3 linked regions of the Homo sapiens genome follow. The protein of the gene in region 2 purifies or fractionates together with the protein of the main gene of each other region. This does not show direct contact. Each region holds a gene or a part of one and is shown on either strand. Other genes may lie near its edges. The genes, in order: CPLANE2, INTU and NCAPG.

Region 1 (3,120 bases), on a different chromosome or scaffold from region 2:
GACCAGCCTGGCCAACATAGTGAGACCCCCATCTCTACTAACAATACAAAAATTAGCCAGGCATGGTGGTTGGCATCTGTAATCCCAGCTACTTGGGAGGCTGTGGCAGGAGAATCGCTTGAACCCAGGAGGTGTAGGTTGCAGTGAGCTGAGAGTGCACCACTGTACTCCAACCTGTGCCACAGAGCAAGACTCTGGAAAAAAAAAAAAAAAAAAAAAAAAGGGCCCTGCAGCGCGACGGGCTTAACTCCTGGACTCACAGGTGGACTCCATGTCCCAGCCTCCCCCACAGCGCCACATGACCACATGACTGCTGGGTGCTGGCCTCTGGAATGTGGGCAGAATGAGGTGCCACCCTGGGCCTGGTCCACAGAAAGCGGGGGGACACCTCCTGCCTGCACTCACTCCCTGGCTGCTGACTGGGTGCTGACACCCTAGGGCAACTGGGCAGGGTAGGGTCTCTGGGGCTGGGTCTCTGCAGGAGCGCCTGGAGCAGAGCCCCACGCCCACTGTCACCTCCTCCCGAGCTGAGGCCTACGTGAGAACGAACACGTCTCTGGAGTTCAGCACTGGGATTTCGGGGTTTATCTGTTACAACAGATGGTGTCACCTCAACCAATACAGGTTCTTGATTGAAGTAACTTGAGAGGCACCCCCTCTCCCAGTCATCCTCCATCGGTGCTGCCAAAGGGGGAAAGGCCACGGGAGATGTTCGAGCTCAGGGCCTTGGTCCCCACCTCCCTGCCATGAATTCTGCAAGGAAAGCGCTGCTCGCGGGTGGGCCTTCTCTGGCCACATCCTCCCTGATCAGGCCATGCTGGCCAGTCCTCCAGATAGGATCCATGTTCCTGCCCCAGCCTCCAGCCCTATGTCGAGACCTGAGGGTTGGGGGTGGGATCACAGGCAACCACTCGTGACTCATTCAGGAGCACTCTCTGGGGGGTTGGGAAGCAGGCCAGCCGCCACCTGGTCCTGGTGCCACAGCTGCTCAGCAAGGCCATTGAGTATGTGGGCAACGTCGGCCAGCCCAGCCCGCCCGTCCAGTGTGCGCCCATCAGCCAGCCGCCGCCCCGGCACACTCTTCACCCGTAGCAGGGGCAGCTCCCAGGCCTGCCGGAAGGCTGTGAGGTCCCGCTCGGGCACGTCCGTGTGCATGTACTGGTCAAATCTGGAGGAGGGTCAAGGAGCCTAACTGGGTGCCTCTGCACAGCCCCCCATCAGACCCTGCCTCTCCCTCCTCCCTGGAGCCCACACCCAGGAGCTGGGGTAGCCATGCTGTACCCTTTAAGTAAAAGCCCAGGTGCTGAATTCCATGCCTGGGCAGAGGCTGGGCCCCTGACCCCCTGGCTCCGTGACTTGCCAAGGATATCCAAAGGATACTTGGAGCCGATGACCATCCTGACGACACCAGGGGCCTCACCTGCTATGCGGGCCAGCTGTCCAGGGAGGTCTTCAAAGGAGGCACGGTCAGTGAAGGAGAAGAGGAAGAGGAAGGCATCTGTGTTCTCCATGCAAGCCTGGTGATGGAGAGGCATATAACCATGTCACCCCCCATCAGCTGCAGGGCCCTCAGAAGAATCAGGAATAATCCCTCCTTTCACAGATTGGGAAACTGAGGCCCAGAGCAAGGAGCGGCTGGTCCTAGGACAAGCATGGGCTGGGACTGTCTCCAGTGCCAGCTCAGGTCTCTGAGCAGTGCCTTGAGCTCATTAATACCCAATCGGCCCCTGGCAGAACCCACCCAGGCCCACATGCCTGCTCACCAGCAGCATATGATCGAACTTTTTGAGTGCAGACTCTCCACAGTCCCAGAACTCAAAACGAAACATGACGACACGGCTGCTGGCCTGCAGCTTGGCTGGCCAAAATACCACGGTGGTCTGGATGCCTGAGGGGGAGCCAGGGTCAGCCACTCACCATGGGAGAGGTGGAGATGGGAGGAATAGGGGACCAGGAAGGAATAGGAAGAAGAGATACATCCCTGCCCTGATGGGTCCCTAGTTTGATGAGGGAGGCACAGTCCTTGACCCGGGATAATTCTCAGTCTGATGGGAGAAACAGAAACTGGCCCTGGAGGAGACTCTGGTACACCAGGAAGATGCAGCCCTAGCTATGGCAAAGCAAGTTTCGTTTGTATGTCCAGGGAGACCCAAAGGGCCCAGGACGCTGGGAGATGTTTCAACATGGTGGAACAATCAGCATCCAGTGGTGAGAAACAACAAAGCAAGATTAGCATTTCCTGAGCATTTACCTTGAGCGTAGCTTGATGCTAGGCATGTTACCACCACCACCACCTCTAGTGGCAACCACACAACAACCCTGTGGTACTATTATCCCCTTGGGACCAAGGAGCCCATGTAGGCTCAGAGACGTGAAGTGACTTTCCAAGGCTACAGAGTAAGAGGTGGTCCAGGGCCAGGTTCTTGCCTCCACCCCCAAGGAGGGCCTCCCAGGATGGGCAAAGGATAGAGGTCCCACTCACCGGTGGTCTCGTGGTGCACCACAGGCACCTCCAGGCCAGCCAGCTTGGCCACCAGCGCCGTCTTGCCCACACCACTCTTCCCGGACACAAAGATCTTGTAGCTGGCAGTGTCAATGGACACAGGCGGCAGCAGCACTGGCCGCTCAAGCAGCCCTAGGGCAAAGAGAGAGCCAGGCAGGGTCAAGGGGTGCTGTGGTTTGAAGGTGTCCCCCAGAGTTCATGTGTTGGAAACTTAATCGCCAATGCACCAGTGTTAGGAAGTGGGGCCTAACACAAGGTGATCAGCTGCCCTCATAAATGGATTAATGTTGTTATTGAGGGAGTGGGTTTGTTATAAAAGCCAGTTTGGGCGCCTCTTGCTGTCTTGCTGTTGCCCTTCTGCCTTCTGCCACGGGATGACACAGCATGAAGGCCCTTTCCAGATGCTGCTGCCATGTTCTTAGACTTCCCAGCCTCCAGAACCATGAGCCAAATAAGCTTCTGTTCATTATAAATTACACAGAGGAGGCCTGGTGCGGTGGCTTACACCTGTAATCCCAGCACTTTGGGAGGCCAAGGCGGGCAGATCACCTGAGGTCAGGAGTTCGAGACCAGCCTGGCCAACATGGTGAAACTCCATCTCTACAAAAAAAAATACC
Region 2 (7,128 bases):
ACATAATTAAAGATACTATCAAAATACCAGTGAGCTATATTAATAGAAATATAGACATACCAAAGTTATTTTTCTCATCATTCCTAAATATATTATTAGGAAATTGATGAAATAATTCATATTCATCCATTCATTTAAGAAATATTTACTGAGCACTTAATGTGTGCCAGGCACTCTTCTAAGCACTAGAGACAAAGAATTGAACAAAGACAAAATCTCTACTCTCAGGGAGCTTAATATTCTTTGGGGAAGATGGATAATAAACATGTATACAGGCTAAGTATCCCAAATCCAAAAATTGAAAATCCAAAATCCTCCAAAATCCAAAACTTTTTGAGCACCAACGTGACCCTCAAAGGAAATGCTCATTGGAGCATTTTGGATTTAGGATTGTCAGATTTGGGATGCTCAACAGGTAAGTATAATGCAATATTAAAAAAAAAAAAATTGGAAGCACTTCTGGTCCCAGGTATTTTGAAGAAGGAGTACTCAACCTGTATATGTAGAATCGTGTTGGTAGATAATTCTTCATGAGTCTCATGTTTCTGTACATCTTACAAGCCGAGGCATTGAGAGTCTTTGTTCTAGACTGTCTTTTCAAAGACGTTCGTGTAATGAACAGCCTTGGACAACAGAGATATGTTTCCATCCTGAGCAAAGGTCAAGCTTGTTTACTGAATGGTATAATAAGGTCAATGCTGTGCTCAATATCTTATTATTAATAACTGTTCTTTATAAAAGATTGGTGTTCCCTAAGTTCAGAGTTCCTTTCCTTTAAGGCAACCCATTATTAGGCATCACTTGGCCATCTGTAGGGTTGGCAAACAGATGAAAATGTTGCCACTGTAGGTACTGCTATTCCTCCTTTTTTTCCTTCCTCTCCTTGATACTCTATTGAATGAGAATGGGGTTAAGTGCAGAGTAAGCAGGAGTACTTTCTTAGGCCAACTGTGAAGGCTTGAACTAGGTTTAGATGCTCAAGAGATACAACTCAGATGGGAGTTTTGCAAGCATGGGCACCAAGTCATTATGATGGTTAACTATTACAGCACTTTGGACAAACTTTTCTTAAAAGTAAGAACTTGCAGACCAAAATAAACTTTCAACTTGAAGTCCACTTGGAAAAAAAAAAACACAACAAGATGCCTGTTTAATTTCTCCTATATAAGAGATTAAACAAAAGTACTATATCAAATTACTTATAGCTGTAGTGATTAAAAGAAAATAAAGGAATGATGGACACAGTATAGCTGTGTCAATGTAAAATGAAACCACTTTTGGACTATCCTAATGATTAGTTCTGTTGTCTATAGTTTGTTATCCTCAGGGCACAGAAATAGTAAAAACATTTTAAATTTGTTACTTTAAACTAAAACTCCATTGGATGATGTGCCAAATGACTTTTTTCTCCAAATCCTAATGAATACATTCCTGTAGCTGAGTGTTATAGGGAGTATTATCTAAAATTATCAAGTCTAACAAACCTCTAAAAAGAGGAGATGGTTCATCATAAAAATATATGAAAATAAATTCTGAAAGCAAGTGTAGTATACCCAATATTTTTAAATGTTTAGTAGAAAATTTTCCCATTCTATGAAATAAATATTATATCCACTTCTCATTCTCCCAGACATTTGTTTTCCTCTAGTGTTTCTGAACACTTCTGTGAAGTGACTCAGAGATGGCTGGCTTCCCGGACATCGCACCTTTGCAGTGGACATCCTAAACCCAAGGAAAGGTCTTTCTCCATAAGTACACGGGAGTCATTAATATGATCTGTCCCATTTCAAAGGCTAAAAGGGAATGAATTATATGATTGATTTGCATTGTTAAATAAGAAATGGCCTGGGTAGAAATATGAGAAAATTTTTATTAAGAGATATATTTAAGAACCAAATAAAATATTTTAAAAAGAGATCAGTTTATCACAGTTCCTCAATGTAAAGTTAAATTATGTGAGAAAAGCCATCAATTTCTCAGTATATACTTAACATCAAACAACATGTGTACTAAAGGGCTACTACATAAGGCACCAAGGGCTATGAAAATATATATGCAAAAGTTTGTTTACTGCTGTGTTTATACTATATATAAAATGAATATACAACTTAAATTATTTTTGACAAAAGATTATTGTATATAAATGTAGGAAAAGGGAGGATATATAACAAAATGTTGTCTTTGGGTATATGGAATTTTTCTTTTTTGCTTAATTGTATTTTCTAAATTGTCTACAATGAACGTATATTATTACTATCACAAAAAGAAAAAAAACTCATATTTTACCAAAAAACCCCCCACTGAGGTAGGCAGCATAATTGCCCCCCAAAGATGTCTATGTTTCAATCCCTGAAATCTCTGAATATGCTACCTTACACAGCAAGAAGGACTTTGCAGTTGTAATTAACTTAAAAGATTGGAAGACTGTCCTGGATTATCCGAATGATCGTCAGGTAAAGATAAAGGTCTTTATAGGAGGAAGGCAAAAGTGTCAGGGTCAGCATGAGAGAGACTGGAAGATGCTATGCTGCTGGCTTTGATGATGGAGGACAGGACCACAAGCCAAAGAATGCAGGTAGCCTCTGAAAGCTGGCCAAGGAATGGGATTCTTCCCTGGAGCCTCCAAAAGGAATGTAGCCCTGTGGACACCTTGATTTTCATACAAGAAGACCCATTTTAGATTTCTGGCTTACATTATTGCAAGATGATAAATCTGTATTGTTTTAAACCACTAAGTTTGTGGTAATTTGTCACGGCAGCAATAGAAGATGAATGCACTAGCCTAGTAATACAAAGCAATCTTTGTGATGCACCAAAAAAGGAATCACGAATGCTAAAAAGCAAAGATGGACACACAAGGTGTATCTGGAGGTCAGTTAGGAAAAAAATAAATCAGGCTTGCTTGTTAGAGGTGGGGATTTATGGATAGAAGGAGTGGCACATATGTATGGGACAGAAAAATGAGATCAAATTGTGAATTGAAATTGATCCTTTTAATTAAGCCAAATTTGACTTCAGGGAAAGGGAATCTGGTTTTTGAAAAGCAGTTACTATACTGCCATTTTATACATTCAAAACTCAATGTTTTCTGCCAATGCATTTACTAACAATAAATTTTGTTATTTTTTTTTGAGTTTCAATCTCAACCCCTCGTCTATAATATGTGGGCACCAAACTAGAGAGAATTAAGGCCCCTCCCAACCTACCATTCTGAAGTCCTTGAATAATGGTACCAACTTGCTTTTGTGAAAACTGTTAAATGAAGAAAAATCAGACATTTATCCTGCCTTTCCTGTCTAAACCATATGTCAAGGTTACCAGAGGTGAGGGGGAGCTTCTTTTTATGAAAGTAGTCTAACTGAAATATTGAGAAAGACTGACAGAATTGGAATATCACCATTTTGCAGTCCCTTAATGAATTAATGGATTTAGGCAATGATCATCAATAACTGTTAATATCACAAAAAGAAAAACAGCAGATAATATGTTGTTCCTGATGGAAGCACACAGACCACCTATAAAATATGTTTGATAGGCCTCAAGATCTAACTACCAACTCACAGGAAACACCACTGAAAGGGGGGCACGTTAAATGAATTCTGGCTCCTTTTACAGAACTAAAAGAACAAACCATAGAGATATTTAGTTCTATCCTATCATTTCACAAGAAGGAAAGTAGAGGACCCAAGAGAATGTAAGTATGTATTAGCCCCTGTTCCAGTCATCTATTGTTGCATAATAAGTCATCCAAACAATTTTTTTTTTTTTTTTTGAGACAGAGTCTCACTGTGTTCCCCCAGGCTGGAGTGCGGTGGTACAATCTTGGCTCATTGCAACCTCTGCCTCCCAGGTTCAAGTGATTCTCGTGCCCCAGCCTCCCCAGCAGCTGAGATTACAGGCATGCACCACAAGGCCCAGCTAAGTTTTGTATTTTTTAGTAGACACGGGGTCTTGCCATGTTGGCCAGGCTGGTCTCAAACTCCTGGCCTCAAGTGATCTGCCCACCTTGGCCTCCCAAAGTGCTGGGATTACAAGTGTTAGCCACCACGCCAGGCCTATCCAAATAATTCTGAGGCTTAAAACAACAACAGTTGGCCAGGCACGGTGGCTCACGCCTGTAATCCCAGCACTTTGTGAGGCTGAGGCGGGTGGATCACCTGAGGTCAGGAGTTCAAGACCAGCCTGACCAACATGGTGAAACTCCATCTCTACTAAAAAATACAAAAAAATTAGTCAGGCATGGTGGTGGGTGCCAGTAATCCCAACTACTCAGGAGGCTGAGGCAGAAGAATCGCTTGAACCCGGGAGGTAGAGGTTGAAGTGAGCCAAGATGGTGCCATTGCACTCTAGCCTGAGTGACAACAGCAAAACTCCATCTCAAAAATAAATAAATAAATAAATAAAATAAAAAATAAAAAAATAACAACAACAATAATTTATCATCTCTCCTGGTTCTGGGGTTAACTGGGGTCAGCTGTGGTTCTCACTTGGGATTCCTCATGCAGTTACAGGCAGATGGTGGTTGGGGCTGGAGTCATCTTAAAGGCTTCTCACTCACATCTGGTGGCGAGGGCTTCAGTTGGGGCTATCAGCTGGATCACTGGTGTCTTGACCTCTTCACACAATGGTGACTGGGTTCTAAGGGCAAGTATCCCCAAAATAACCAGGCAGAAGCTGCATCACCTTTTATGATCCAACCTCTTAAGTCACATGGCACCAATTAAGCTGTAGTCACCGGCCCACCCAGATTCAATGACACAGAGCACAACTCTCCATGGGAGGAGTATCAACACTACATTTTAAGAAAGTGTGCAGATCCTGTTGAGATCATTCTGGAACACATACTTTGCCACAGATGCCCTTCTTACAAGATTCCATATGATCCTCCTTGTAAACCCCTATGATGACACTTATCAGACAGTGAGGAGCTGCCTGCCTATCTGTAACCCGTCTCTTCCACTAAAACATAGCTCCTTTCAAGAAATAATTGGATCAGTAAAGTAATCTTTGTATTCCTGGCACTTAGCAGATGCTAAAAAAACAAACTGTCAAATCAGTGAACAAACAAATGAAATTCAGATTTAAAGTTGGAAATATTTGTAAATTTATCTGTAAATGTTCTTCATTTAAACCTCTTATGCTAGATAAACTTAAAAGACTGTCAGCTTTTAGAACTGTTATTACTTTTAAATTTTAGTAATAATATATCCTCAAATTTTACTCATTTATCTTTAAGTAATTAGATTGCTACTAACTCAAACATTGTATCTAACAGCTTAAAATTTATCAGCAACACAAAATGTTCATCTTAATATATATTCAGAATAATTTGTGGGTTTATTTTTCTTGAAAATTGGTGGGCTATTTTATGACAGATATATTTTATGACACACGCCCTTAAAAGGAAATTTATATATAACACCACTGTTGCAAAATATGCCAAATGAAACAGTTGAAAACCACTCCAAGAACTTAGTGTACTCAAGTGCAAACATACAATTTAAAAGTATTTTTATTCATAAATTATATATTTTTGTATCCTGTTACTGGATATAGCCATTCAAACCTAAATTATCACTCTATGATCAACGTTTTTTTTCTTGTCAGCAAATATAACCAAGATGAAATAAAATTATATAATTCAAAACTTGAAAATTAGGTAAGCTATTTCTTGGCCTGAACAAGGCACACACATACTCAACACACTGAACTGGTCATTTTAAGAACACTGTGCCTTGTAGTGCACCATGTGTAACCATTTCTCTACTGTACCAAATGTCATTAATCAGTTCTTTATCTGTGGAGACTGTATATAATTGTTTTTATCACATTTCCCGCAAGGTGTCATCATTAATCAAGATCTCTGTAAACAGGGATGGATGTGTACCAGCAACACTTACCAATGAGTACCTGACCGCTCTTCATAGCAGATCCCCCTGGCAGCAGGCCATGAACCACAAGCCTCTCTCCATCACCCTGCTTTCCGGTTCTTCTCCAGCTCCACTTGGTCTGATGAATAATTCCAACCAGCACTTCCAGAAGCTTGAGCTGCTCTTTGGCTTTGATAACAGTTAGCTTTTTGGGGTTTACATAAACATTCACATCTTTGTATCGCTGTTGGACAATGACTCCTGTCTTCTGATTGGACTGATGCTTTAGAATGGATACTGGTCCATTGTCATTGCTATTTTTTTTATTGCAGCGCTTGGGTAAAAGTCTTTTCCTTCTTAAAATTTTGGTAAACTGCTTGAGTTTGGGTTCATACTTTTTTCTTTCTTTGTAGTCATCTTCAATGATAATCTCATTTTCACTGAACCTGACATGGTTCACAGTTGGTGTCTCAGGAAGGAGGCTTTCTTCTTCATCCTCACTCAATTCCAAATAAAACAGCTCTCCATTTTTCTGCACACTGTCCAGCCATTCAGGCTCAAGATCACTATGAAAGAGAGAAAAGATAATCTTAATAGCAGCCCAATATATAAAAGAAAGGTATGTCATCCTGGCATGGGGGTGAGGGTTGGGGCTGGGGAGCAGGAAGATGGGAAAGGGTGAAACTTCTTTATTATTTCAAATTATCCTTACTATTTCTAATTTATTGTGATCCTCAACATTATTTCATATAGGATGCTTTTTTTGTAGAGCTTTGAATAGGAGTTGGGGGAGAAGGAATCAAAAAGGCATAGCAATAGAAAGGAAAACCAATGAAAAAAGAGATGGTCCCCTTATAGAATCTATGAGTTGAAAAAAATTAAATCAACCACTGTGTGGTTACTGCTCACTTTAAACAATTTCACTGAATGATAATTTGCATTAGCAGTTGATTATGCAATTATATCCACACAAGCATGCCATTTGGAAATTGTACATGAAAATCTATTATTTGCATAGAAATTATTTAGGATGGCTGTCAGGTTAAAATGAAAGCTAAAGCCAGCTTTAACAGACTTTTACATAAGTTTTCAAAAAAGAAACATTCACTTCACCATGAACTAAAATCTGTCCTGAAAACAACCCATTTATAATCACAGTTAATATAGTAATGATCACTTTACTGTCTATAATTTCCATAAAACTCCTTTTTATGAAAAATTGTAGTAGAAAAAAAAAAGCACATATTACATAATTCAT
Region 3 (7,128 bases), about 110 Mb from region 2:
CACTCAAGAAAGTATTTTAAAGTCTAAGAATTTATATTTAAGATGGCTTTCAACAAATTTTATTGTTGTCCCTTTTACTTACTCTAATTTGATAATCCTCATTTCCTCGTTTGCTCTTTAAGTGAGCACCTTGGTTAACCAAAATTGTTTCACATCAGAGTTCTTAGTCATTGAATCTACTGCCTAAAATATACAGTATGCCTGAAAACATATTCCTGAGATTATCAGGAAACAATTTTTCAATTTAATTTTGTTTCTGTACTCAAGTATACTAATCCCATCTAGTCATGTTCCTCCAAAAAGACACTCATTCTATTTTTTAGGTATTCTTTCAACAATCACTAAAATAAATTTCTGAAAGTTTTCTTTTTTTTGTTTTTTTTGAGACGGAGTCTTGCTCTGTTGCCCAGGCTGGAGTGCAGTGGCGCGATCTCGGCTCATTGCAAGCTCCACCTCCCAGGTTCACGCTATTCTCCTACCTCAGCCTCCCGAGTAGCTAGGACTACAGGCGCCTGCCACCACGCCCAGCTAATTTTTTTGTATTTTTAGTAGAGACGGGGTTTCACTATGTTGGCTAGGATGGTCTCGATCTCCTGACCTCGTGATCCACCGGCCTCAGCCTCCTAAAGTGCTGGGATTACAGGCATGAGCCACCGCACCCAGCCGAAAATTTTCCTCTTTAAAGGTGAAGAAAATAAGTCGAAGAGGTTAAAGTTACTTATTTCAAAACTAAGAGAGTGACAAAGGAAATGTTAATCCCTGACCTTTCAGAAGGGAGGAATCAAGCTTTTTACAAGTCACCTTCTGATGCTGTCCTTGAGGAAAACTCCTCCCCCTTTATGCCATTTAAATATTTAACATTTCCTCATATTTTCTTATATTTTCACTACCTTCTATAAACATCTTTTATATTTATATATATTATTAAACTTTGCCACAAACTCATTCCTTTTGGAAACATTTCAACATGGCCCAAACAGCATTATAATGAATTCCCTACTTAAATGTCAAAGTCTGAAATAATTAACATTAAAATGCTCATTAGATTCACACAGGTTCTTCATGATGTTAACATGGGCTTGAGCTATAGTTTCCCTACTGGCTCACATTTGAGATACTTATCCTAGATTTAGGATTTTTGAGGGGAAATTTAGAGGCATGCACAGCTTTGCTGCCTAACTTTTATGTGAGATCATTTTAAACAAAAGCAGAGAACTGTACTTCATACAGATAATTCAGGTCCATAATTCATATTATATGGAAGCTTTTTTAAAAAAATACATCAGGCTGGGCGCTGTGGCTCACGCCTGTAATCCCAGCACTTTGGGAGGCCAAGGCAGGCAGATCACGAGGTCAAGAGATTGAGACCATCCTGGCCAACATGGTGAAACCCCATCTCTACTAAAAATACAAAAATTAGCTGGGCATGGAGGCGCGTGCCTGTAGTCCCAGCTACTCAGGAGGCTGAGGCAAGAGAATCGCTTGAACCCGGGAGGCGGAGGATGCAGTGAGCCGAGATTGCACTATTGCACTCCAGCCTGGCGACAGAGCAAGACTCCGTCTCAAAAAAAAAAAAATAAACCATAAAGTTGAAGTTAAAAACCTACATACCAATATCTATCAAAATATACATATATTATCCTTTGGTGTAGCAACTTATTTCTTGGAATTAACCCCCAAAAATCCCAAAGGTACCCAAAAATGTAAAGGAAATTTAACATACTTTTGCTTTTATCAGTGAAAAATGGAAACATCCTAAATGTCCATCAACAGAGGAATAAATTAAATGTTACCACCATACTACGGAATGATATGCTGTTAAGACTGTAACAGTATCTATTACATTATATATGCACCAATATATAATGATCTCAGTTATCAGTTGAAAAAAAAAGTATATACACAGTGTTATATTTTTAAAGAAACCTGTACTCAAAAAATGTATATAAATGCAGAGAAAGAGGTTTGAATATACACCCTATATTGTTTAGTTGCTAATTCTAAGGGTTGCTAGAATATACACTTAGTTGCTAATCAATGGGATTGAGGAAGTAGGAAATAAAAGAGGGAATTCCACATTTTTATTCCTTATACCTCTGTATTTGAATTTTGACAAGAATGCATTCATGTTTTTCTTGTATAATTTTAAAGTGAAATAAAGTAATCCAAATAATTTCTTAAGAGGTATAATTATGGTAATCCAAATTGTTTTTTAAAAAGGCATATTTTGAAAAAACTTTAAAACATGAAGCTAGATAGTAAGTTTTTAATAAATAAAACTGGCCACAAAGATCCACGCTGTGAATTGGAAAACAATGTTCCGTGCATCAAATCCAGCCTATTACCTGTTATATAGCTTGCAAGCTAAGACTATTTTAAATTTTTAACTGATCATTTTTTAAAATTTCTTATTTTGTTAACACATGAATATTAAAGTTCAACTATTTAGTGGCCATAAAAGTCAATAAAAGTTTTATTGAAAAACAGTTACTTACATTGTCTTTGGCTGCTTTTACAATACCATGGCAGAGTTGAGTCATTGTGACAGACGGTATGGCCCACAGGACCCTAAGATATTTATTATCTGACACTTAACAGAAAATGTGCCAACCAATTTCAGAAATAATATATCATCATCATCAACTTTATGCAGAAATGGTCATAATCATATCTTAACAGTTTTGAAGAAATGATCCTAAACATAGTGACTTGCTCTTTCAGTATACAGACCAGCACAAGATATTCAAAAAGACTCGATGTATATAACTATCCCTACATGTACAAAAAAAGGATTTTTAACATATTCACAATCAAACATGACTTTGAGGAAGGGGACTGGGAGATTGACACATGCAGCAACACAATCACTCTCCAAACTAAAAGAAAAAAAATTTACCTCAATAAATAGTCTGCATATACTACAGGCTCTGGCAAAATCTGCTCTAAAAATTCTTCACCTTCATCTCCTTTTGATTTCAAATATTCACAAAGGGCACACCAATACAAAGCAATTTCAGGAGTTAATGTTTCCACTGGAATCAATTTCCTTCATTTAAAAGAAAGAGTGTGAGAGAAAGCATGATCTTTTTATCATTAAGAATTGAAGAGTACAAAAATGAGAATAATAAGATTTGCTTTAAAACCACTACACTATCCTTTTAATTAGAGTCATTAATGTATCCACACAAAAAGGAATGAAGAAACTTAGAACAAAAAAGAACCAAATAAGCAAACATATACTAGGGGTGCATGTTGCTGGATTTTCTCATGGTAGGCTAATTCAAAAATCAAAGTAAGAAACTGAAGGGGGGAAAAGCATAGCTAAAGTAGATAGTCTATGATAAAGTTATGAGTTCTTACACCAGGAGGGGAAAAAGGAAGGATAAAAGGATATTCATCAGACTAAAAGAAAACAAAAGAGAGTTAAGATTAAAGGTATTAATATAATCTTAAGCTATGGGGAGGAAAAAAAACAAATTAATTGCACAAGTTAATCAGTACTACATTTCAAAGAATGAATCCTTTATGTACCTGCCATCATTGTTTTTACAGAGTCCCACCAGTTCACTGAGAGGAGTTATTGAAAACAAGGCATTGAGAACAGAGACTGCCACTTCAGAAGAATTTTCTACATCCAACCGATGGAGCAACTCTAAGATATTTCCTTCAGAGAACCGTAACCAGCCTTGAAGAAGATGCTTCTGCATAGCTTGTTTCACAGCATCTATTGAGTCATTTGAAACATAGGTGAACAAAGGCTCCCTCTAGCTTCCATCTCTTGTATTTTGTCTGTTTTAATTAACAAAGTCAGTATTTACAATAGAAATAGTAGAGGTTAAGAGGCACAACTAAGCATGTATATATATATTTTTTGAGACAGAGTCTCGCTCTGTCACCAGGCTGGAGTGCAGTGGCACGATCTTGGTTCACTGCAACCTCCACCTACCAGATTCAAGCGATTCTCCTGCCTCAGCCTCCCGAGTAGCTGGGACTACAGGCATGCGCCACCACGCCCAGCTAATTTTTGTTTCACCATGTTGGCCAGGATGGTCTCAATCTCTTGACCTCGTGATCCGCCTGCCTCGGCCTCCAAAAGTGCTGAGATTACAGGTGTGAGCCATAGCGCCCAGCCAACTAAGCATATTAAAGGTAAAAAAAAAGAAGTACCATGATACTGCAAAAGTCACTGTAATGGTCACTTACAAATAAAAATGGAAAAGGTTCAGCACCAAATACCACAGCCTACAAAAATATCTTTACATTCCTTCTCCCCTGGGTTCAATGGGCTTCAGGTGTTAGCCCAGAATATGTAATAGCTATTATCTCACTTGTTATCTGATTTTATCTATTACACGATTGCTATTTGCAGTAGTGAACTATACAAGCACACGTCACTGAACAAACCTTAGTCTTAGCTTTTAAGGTCATCCTACTAATTAGTCCTCTGACAATGTTTTCAAACGCAAGTCGGTTTTCTCACTACAGCGCAATAGAGCCATCTTGGCCTTCTCATGAGAGTTAAAAACTTCAAAAAATATCATTCCTATAAGCAGATTCTCTCAGGCTCCCCAACCCCTGGGCCACGGACTAGTACCAGTCTGTGGCCTGTTAGGAACCGGGCCGCACAGGAGGAGGTAAGCCGTGGTCTAACGAGCATTACCACCTGAGCTCTTCCTACTGTCAGATCAGCAGATGCATTAGATTCTCTCAGGCGCAGGAACTCTATTGTGAACTGCGCACATGAGGTATCCAGGTTGCACGCTCCTTATGAGAATCTAAGTAATGCCTGATGATCTGAGGTGGAACAGTTTCATCTGGAAACCATCCAGCCCGCCCTCTGTGGAAAAACTGTCTTCCATGAAATCGATCCTTGGTGTCAAAAATGTTGGGGAACTCTACTCTAACAGAAAAAAAAAAAAATAAGAAAATTATACTGGTCTGACCATTCCTATTTGTTGTTTCTGATACACAGAACACATTCATACCAAAGTATACACATAAGGAACAGCATTTTTTTTTTAAGTCAGAGAGAGAGGGCAAATAGATCTTTTCCTACTTCTGACATGAATTAGCTCTACAGACTTAAGTATTGTTTCTCCATCTGTAAAATACAGAAAGGGTGAAAGAAATAAGCTCTGCTCCTTCAAAATACCAAGATCTTGGCCAGACGCGGTGGCTCACACCTGTAATCCCAACACTTTGGGAGGCTGAAGTAGGTGCATCACTTGAGGTCAGGAGTTCGAGACCAGTCTGGCCAACATGGTGAAACCCCGTCTCTATAAAAATATAAAAATTAACCAGACATGGTGATGTTCACCTGTAATCCCAGCTGCTCAGGAGGCTGAGGCAGGAGAATCGCTTGAAACTAGAAGGCAGAGGTTGCAGTGAGCCAAGATTGCACCACAGCACTCCAGTCTGGGTGATAGAGTGAGACTCTGTCTCAAAAATATATATATATCAAAATCTTTAGCCCTGTGTTTTCTATATAATACATCAAGATAAATTTCACCAGGTTCATGGGACTGGCAGGCTTACTTGACCTGATTTGACACTCGTTTCTTAAACCTTGTTAAGTCTGACCTCAAAATCTACTAAAGTTTTGTATATATAAAGTTGTTTATCTTACCTGATCTGTCATTAAGACCTTGTTGAAGGAGCATTACTCTCTGAGCAATGGACATAGCTCTCATATGAACCTTTTCAGCTAAAACCTTAAAAATAATTTATAAAGATGGTCATTAACCTCAACACAATTTATAGATTTCATAAGAATATCACCATCTTAGAAAATTACCCAGAATCTCCAAAAGAAATTAATACCTGGTAACATACTTAATACAGTAAGATTCTACCTAAATTACCTGTGTTCTCCATAAAACCTCAACTGAAGAAATTATTACATGCCAAGTATTTTTCAAAGGCACTTTAAGAAAATGGCTCCTTGTCCTTTAAGAATATGCCAACACAAGACATTGAACTTATTTACCTGATAAGCCAGCTTTCTGACAGCCTCTTTCACATCCTTGGTGCGCCCTACAATTTTTGGCAAAGTCTTTGCTGATGGTGCAATACATGATAACACTGCCCGTCTAACTTCTGGATTTGAATCATTTTCAATCAAAGTAGCATATGCTAAAAATAAAGCAATACATTTTAGTACTGATGAAATTATTTATTTAACTACAGTCATAAAATAACACACATTTTGATATTTTAAAATGCCTTTAATGTGATAAAGATAGGCTGGGCATGATGGCTACTGCCTATAACCAGCACTTTGGGAGGCCAAGGTAGGTGGAGAGCTTGAAGCCAAGAGTTCAAGACCAGCCTGAGCAATATAGAAAGACCCCTGTCTCTACAAAATAATTTTAAAATAAAAAATTAGCTAGGCATGGTAGTGGCGCTTCCAGTTACTTAGGAGGCTGAGGTGGAAGGATCACTTAAGCCCAGGAGTTTGAGGCCACACCTCTGCAATCCAGCCCGAGTGAGAACCCATCTGTAATAGAAAGTAATGTCATTTTTTTAGTCTCACATATTTTAGTTGAAGTTTTTTTCCCACCAACTTCCTTCTTTTTCTTTTTTTTGGAGACAAGGTCTCACTATGTTGCCCAGGTTGGAGCCAAAGTGCTGAGATTACAGGCCTGAGTCACTGCTGCGCAGGCCACCAACTTCCCTTCTAAAGACACAAGGGGGAATTAGTCAACGGACTGGCTCTTAGGCCAAAAGTGAAAACAAATAGCCCTAAAAGTCACAGAAAATTCATCATTAAGATTATGTCTGTGCTACTCCTCAATATTTAAGAGAAAGCTTACTATAGCAGACAGTTTATTTTAAACTGATATGGCTTTATAAGGGCCCATTATTTTGGTTTTTAATGAGACCTAAAAGGAAATATTTTTTGGTTTTATTCATTGAAACAAACCCATTTCTTATATTTAAATATATTTATCTGTACTTCTCACATCTTTCCTACCTCAATTATTAAGTACAGGTTGACTATCAAATACCTATGTTTTACACAATATTATTATGGGTATCTTTTAACACCAAAAAAAATACCAACTACTATAGTGATAAATATACCAGTGATTATAAAACTGGTAATAGGGACAAAAAGGACAGAAGAGT

The links.
Region 1: the proteins of INTU (region 2) and CPLANE2 purify together in Homo sapiens (affinity purification with mass spectrometry; 3 studies listed by BioGRID and IntAct, with this or other methods). This does not show direct contact.
Region 3: the proteins of INTU (region 2) and NCAPG purify together in Homo sapiens (affinity purification with mass spectrometry; 2 studies listed by BioGRID and IntAct, with this or other methods). This does not show direct contact.

What each region holds. Positions count from the first base shown.
Region 1 is NC_000001.11:16,231,130-16,234,249, forward strand, and holds the end of CPLANE2 (ciliogenesis and planar polarity effector 2), read right to left. Parts: intron 2,636-3,120; coding exon 2,483-2,635; intron 1,889-2,482; coding exon 1,764-1,888; intron 1,518-1,763; coding exon 1,381-1,517; coding exon of another isoform or gene 1,370-1,380; intron 1,169-1,369; coding exon 919-1,168; 3' UTR 563-918; downstream 1-562. UniProt on the Homo sapiens protein: Required for efficient primary cilia initiation, regulating a late step in cilia initiation. Plays a role in the final maturation of the mother centriole and ciliary vesicle that allows extension of the ciliary axoneme.
Region 2 is NC_000004.12:127,642,829-127,649,956, reverse strand, and holds part of INTU (protein inturned), read right to left. Parts: intron 6,437-7,128; coding exon 5,901-6,436; intron 1-5,900. UniProt on the Homo sapiens protein: Plays a key role in ciliogenesis and embryonic development.
Region 3 is NC_000004.12:17,813,857-17,820,984, reverse strand, and holds part of NCAPG (condensin complex subunit 3), read right to left. Parts: intron 6,133-7,128; coding exon 5,987-6,132; intron 5,712-5,986; coding exon 5,627-5,711; intron 3,725-5,626; coding exon 3,532-3,724; intron 3,047-3,531; coding exon 2,897-3,046; intron 1-2,896. UniProt on the Homo sapiens protein: Regulatory subunit of the condensin complex, a complex required for conversion of interphase chromatin into mitotic-like condense chromosomes.